Regions from separate parts of the Homo sapiens genome. Here region 2 is linked to region 1. The links come from fine-mapping of genetic effects on gene expression. Tissue or cell type: unexposed skin. Region 1 holds a variant in brackets; the other region holds the start of a gene. All regions are shown on one strand. Distances are from middle to middle.

The links. PIP is the estimated chance that this variant, and not a neighbour inherited with it, causes the effect.
Region 2: it holds the start of STK32C, and the variant in region 1 is fine-mapped to the expression of STK32C in unexposed skin (GTEx, PIP above 0.99). The same link has a PIP of 0.9 or more in sun-exposed skin and whole blood.

Annotation. Positions count from the first base shown.
Region 1 is chr10:132,342,248-132,344,999 of GRCh38, reverse strand. It overlaps LRRC27 (leucine rich repeat containing 27), which reads right to left. Exons shown (of 11, transcript NM_030626.3): 4 at 2,729-2,752; 5 at 350-502. Among named protein-coding and RNA genes, the nearest start is that of LRRC27, 11 kb to the right of the region's middle. The variant C/T (reference allele first, on the strand shown) is at 1,282.
Region 2 is chr10:132,306,338-132,308,962 of GRCh38, reverse strand. STK32C (serine/threonine kinase 32C) reads left to right here and starts at 1,013. Exons shown (of 12, transcript NM_173575.4): 1 at 1,013-1,391. The coding sequence starts at 1,130. RefSeq lists an enhancer at 1-287 and a silencer at 540-1,189.

The DNA of each region.
Region 1 (2,752 bases):
TGTACTTATTTTAAAATAGCTGCCTAATGCAGCATCAAGTCATTCCTGAAGCAGCCGCCTGCGGGTGGCTTGGAGGTGATAACTGTTTCATTTGATTGATCACAATAAACTTCTACCAAAATCCACTTGAGCCAGGATCTATAATGTGCCCAGATTTATAGAACCAAGGAAAAGTCACAGAGATGACTGGGTCGGCCTGAGATCAGTGTACACTGTGTCAACTCAGCAGAGGACCCATGGCTCCTGTATTTCTCAGGATGTTATTAAAGAGAAGACAGGTTCTGCCCTGATTTTAAAAAGCTGTAACTTCAACGTTAATGTGATTTGTCATAAATCACCTCCTACAAACCTTGAGAAGTTGGATTTCTGGGGAGAGAGTGTTCTACTGCCCACATCCGCAGGAAGCGCTGGATAGCCACCAATCCCTTCTGCACAACGAGCTGAGGAGGGAATTCCAGAGGGCAGTGTCTTAGGTTCAGTGCTTTCAGCGTGGTTACGCTCCCTGCAGTGGAGGAAAAAAAAACTGTCAGCATTCTATATACCATTCTTGAAATGAAAATGAGGAATAAATAATAGTAACTTTTCACATTTTAAAATATGATTCTATTCAGTATTTGGGGGAAAATCACGTTAACAGATGTCAAAGATTTGCTTTAAAGGTAACTCTGCAGGAGACGGATTCCGCAAATTAAGACCAGGATGGTTTCCAAAAAACAAATAAATAAAATCAAACAAACAGAAGCAGCCACAACCACCTTCACAATTCTGTAAAATTCAGAATACAAAGTCGCTATATTATCTAAAATGCCCATTTTCCACATAAAAACTACCAGACATGCAAAGAAAAGGAAAATGTACCCTACACTCAGGAACGGAGCAGACAATGGAAACTGTCTTGGAGGAGGCCCAGATGTTGGGTTTAACAAAGACTTCAAAGCAACCATTTAAATATGTTCAAGCAAATGAAGAAAATTGTGTTTAATTAGAAGAAAATAGAATACAAGGACTCCACAAATGTGAAATGTCACTAAAAATGGAAATTATGTGAACTTGGAGGCTTTGGAAACGATGGCCGCTGAGAGGTAAGGCTCCCGTGGTGGGCAGTGGGCTGGTGGGGGCTGGCTCACTCCCCAGGCTCAGGGCGAAGTCCCCGGAATGAGGAGCACGGGGAAGCACTGCAGGGGCCCTAGTCCTGTGGCGTTTCCCAATCTGAGGGAGCCAGGGTTCAGTGTGAAAGATGGATGCTTGGATTTTGGGTATTTGGGTGTCCCACCTTTCAGC[C/T]GCGCTCGCTTTTCACATGTAGGTTAAGTATTAGGCTCTACAAACTGCAAATGCCTTGTTGGCCCTGTCCATTAATGGGCTCTGCCCTGAGCTCACTGGTCCAGTTGGAAAACAGAGACTAAACTAGAAGCTACCTATCTAAATGAAATTCGTTTCCTTATCAAATCCTGTGGCAAGTGACTCTGTATTATCTTGTCATCCATTTTTAGTCTTCAAACACACCCAAACTCCTTCTTTAAAAAGCTTAAATTCTCTCTCTGTTCTTTGAAGTGTAAATTTGCTATTCTGTTTTCTCTAAAACTGTGTAAGGGTTCCAGCCATAACTCGTTCCATTTACAAAGGCACAATTTAACCTAACTGTTCTTTTATTTTTGTTTTTTGTTGTTGTTGTTGTTTTGTTTTTAGAGAGAGGGTCTCGCCCTGTTGTCCAGGTTGGAGTATAGTGGTGCAATCAGAGCTCACTGCAGCCTTGAAGTCCTGGGCTCAAGTTAGCCTCCTGCCTCAGCCTCCTAAGTACCTAGGAACACAGGCATGCACTACTGCACCTGGCTAATTTTATTTTATTTTATTTTTTGTAGAGATGGGGTCTCACTATGTTACCCAGGCTGGTTTCAAACTCCTGGCTTCAGGGGATCCTCCTGCCTTGGCGCCCCAAGGTGCTAAGATTACAGGCATGAGCCACTATGCGTGGTCTCAACTGTTCTTTTAAACTAATGAGTTTTATCTGATTCATGGCTAAAAATAAAATCAAAGCTATACAATCTTAATGTTTGTACTTTTATGTATACATGCGTATACATGTCTGTTTTTATACTGTCTACATGGTAGCAAGTGACTTACAAATAAATGAGTACTCATAAATTAGTTCTCCAAAATGCTTCTCAAGTTCATAATAGAAATGCCTTCAGAATTTTAGACATTTTTTCCTGGGCTACTAGTCCGACAAATTTATACTGTTTCTGCTAGATATTTTAAAGGTCATAAAACTTGCTTCTGTGATAGTTTACGCTTGTTTGATTTGTCTGTCAGTTTATGCTTTTGGTTTTGAGTGTTTAGATTCTGAAGTCTAAAAAAGTGGTCATGATGGGGCCTAGGAACATACGTAAGTGGTAAAACTTCCCAGGAAGGCCAGCGAGATGCAGCGGAGACAGCACGCAGGGCCTGCAGAGGTGTGTGCGGGGCCTTCAGTTTCCTTAGCTGTGTGACGGCGCCAATGGCCCTCACTGTGACTGTGCCTCACACAAGGCTCACACGTCACACCTCCATAAGAACAGTACGTGCTATATCAACAGTTCTTGAGAGCTACATTATCTTGGTCCTAGAAGTAGGAAGGATTTTTAAAATATCTAGCTTACCCTCCTTTGTCATGCCTGATACTTCCATTACAAGGTCTGGCAAGTTCAAAAGATAGCATTTTAAAATCATCTTTTTATTATTTTATACTTACCCAGCTCCACAGGTAACATTTTGA
Region 2 (2,625 bases), 36 kb after region 1:
AAGTCAAACAGCCCGGTAGCAAAAACTGATTCTTCAGTGACAAGCGCCAGGGGCAGGCGGCGAGGCTCCATGCAGAGCCGCGCCTTCTCCAGGGCACTCCAAGGCGCCCAGCACTTTCCGCGCAAGGTCGCGCCTGGCCCTGCGCAGGGGCAGAGGTGCCCGGAGGTCAAGCCGCGCCCCAGGCCTCCGAAATACGCCGAGTGCCGAGGCCCCTGTCGCATCTGGACAAGGGGACCCTGGGCGACTCGGGCACGCGGTCTCAGGCCGGACGGGGGTCGCGAGGATGGCACGGGGGTGCCCGAGAGCGCGGGCGCACGTGCTCAGGGCTTAGCGCCCACCCCAGGCGCCCGCGTGTGCGCGCGCGCAGCCAGGCCCGCCCTGCCCCACCCCACCCTCTGGCGCAGCGCTTGGACTCAGCCTGCCGCCTCCTGACCGTGAGCCGGGCTCTGCCCGGCAGATTCCCGCCGCCCGCATCCCGGGCCTGCAGCCCGGCCTCACCCTGCGCAAAGCAGAAGGCTGGAGTTTAGGGCTCCCCGCACTGGGCGGCGGAAGCCCGCGCGCCGGCTGTTTTCACGAAGAAGGCAGGGGAGGGAGGCCCCCGGAGACCGCGAGAAGGTCCCGCCGCCGTGCCGGGCACAGCAGTCCCCGTGCCAGGGACGCCGACCTCCGGGGCCCCAGGATACCCGTGGGGACGCTCCCTGCCTCCCTCGCTCTCGTACCCGCCGTCTAGTCTGAGCCGTGGTCCCCGTGTCCCGGCGAACCACAGCCCCCATCCCTAGACTGGTGGCGGCCACCCACTCCCTAGCGACACTCCAGGCACTAGCCCCGCCCCTGCCCCGCCCCCGGCTCGGCCCCGCCCCTACCCTTCCCGAAGCTCCGCACCTGCCACGCCCCGGCGCTCAGCTCCGCCTCGACCCCTTCCAGGAGCTCCGCCCCGCCCCCGCCCCTTCCAGAAGCCCCGCCCCTGCCCCGCCCCCAGCGCTCGCAATCTACGGGGCGGGTTCCACCGCCCAGAAGAGCGCACGGCGGGCGCTGCCGGCCCCGAGCGCTCCCGCTACCACTGCCGCTCCCGGCCCTGCCGGCCGGCCATGCCCCGAGTTCCGGCTGCCGCGCGCACCCAGACCCGGCGATGAGGAGTGGCGCCGAGCGCAGGGGCAGCAGCGCCGCGGCGTCCCCGGGCTCGCCGCCCCCCGGCCGCGCGCGCCCCGCCGGCTCCGACGCGCCCTCGGCCCTGCCGCCGCCCGCTGCTGGCCAGCCCCGGGCCCGGGACTCGGGCGATGTCCGCTCGCAGCCGCGCCCCCTGTTTCAGTGGAGCAAGTGGAAGAAGAGGATGGGCTCGTCCATGTCGGCGGCCACCGCGCGGAGGCCGGTGTTTGACGACAAGGAGGACGGTGAGTGCGGGCACGGGGACGACGTGGGGGCCGCGCGCTATTGCAGGGGCGGGCGCGGCTGGGCGGCTTTTTCCCGCAGGGGTTCCCCCGGTGTCCGGGACGGCTTCCCGGGGCGCCCCGGCTTCCGGAGAAGCTCGCGCCGGGTGGCTGCGGCCCCACGCGAGTTCTGGGCGCCCGCCCGCGTCCTCCGTTTCTAGTGGCGGCGCCGCAGGAGGAGCAGGCTGGGCCCGGGCCCTCGGGGCGAGGGTCCCCCGCGGCTGTGGCGTCTCCGGGCTTGCGCGCGCCTCCGCCCACCGCCCGTGGCAGCCCTGCTTTCCGCTTTCCGTGATCCGCTCGGGCCCACGTGCGGGCTCGTTTGTACTTTGCAGTTAGAGAGGCGCTCACCTGTGCCGCCCGAGTGCGAGTGAGGCTCCTGCCCCACAGGTGGCGGGGCCCGGCCGCTCAGAGGCTCAGTCTCCTTGGTGACCGCGCGGTGTCCATCCTCTGCTCACCCATGTGCGCTGGAGGCAGGGCCAGGCCGTTGTGCAAAGACCTGCCCTGCCAGGAACGAGTGCGCTGCTGAGTCCTGTAGATAAAGCCGCCAACCCCGGGGACTGGTGTCTCCTGAGTGACCGTGCAGCCGTGGGCGCCATAGAAAGCAGAGAAGGCAGGTGAGGTGACATGGGACAGGCCTGCAGGGACACCTCCCGGGGTGCCAGGGGGCCCCGGGGACCCCCGAATTATCACCTGCAGGGAGATGTGGTGCCGCGTCTGCCTGTGGGCACTGTAATACAGTCACATGCAGACATACAGCTCTTTTCTACAGGTAACATGCAAATCATTTAAAATCGTACATTGATGACACATTTCATGTTTTTTGACATTTTCTTAAAATACTTGAAATGTGCATTTTTCATTTATAGATAGCGTGCAGAGGTATGATGGATCCTTCAAAATTTTAGAGCCCAGCGCTCAGGAGCCAGGCTATTTACTTGCGATAAATAATTTAAGCATTATGGGAAATTACAGTAATACGACCTCAGGCCGGCGTTGGTGAGTGTGGGGCCGTGCACCGCCGTTCCTCCGGGAGACGGCACCGGGGATTCATGGTGTGCTGCCTAGAAGGAGGGCTGAAGGCCCAGCCACACCAGGCCCCACACGCTCCAGGGTGGCCCGTCACTGTGTCCTGAACTTCGGGACAGCAGAACTCACGATGGTGAATGTTTGAGAAATGTTTTTGTTTTTAACATAAATA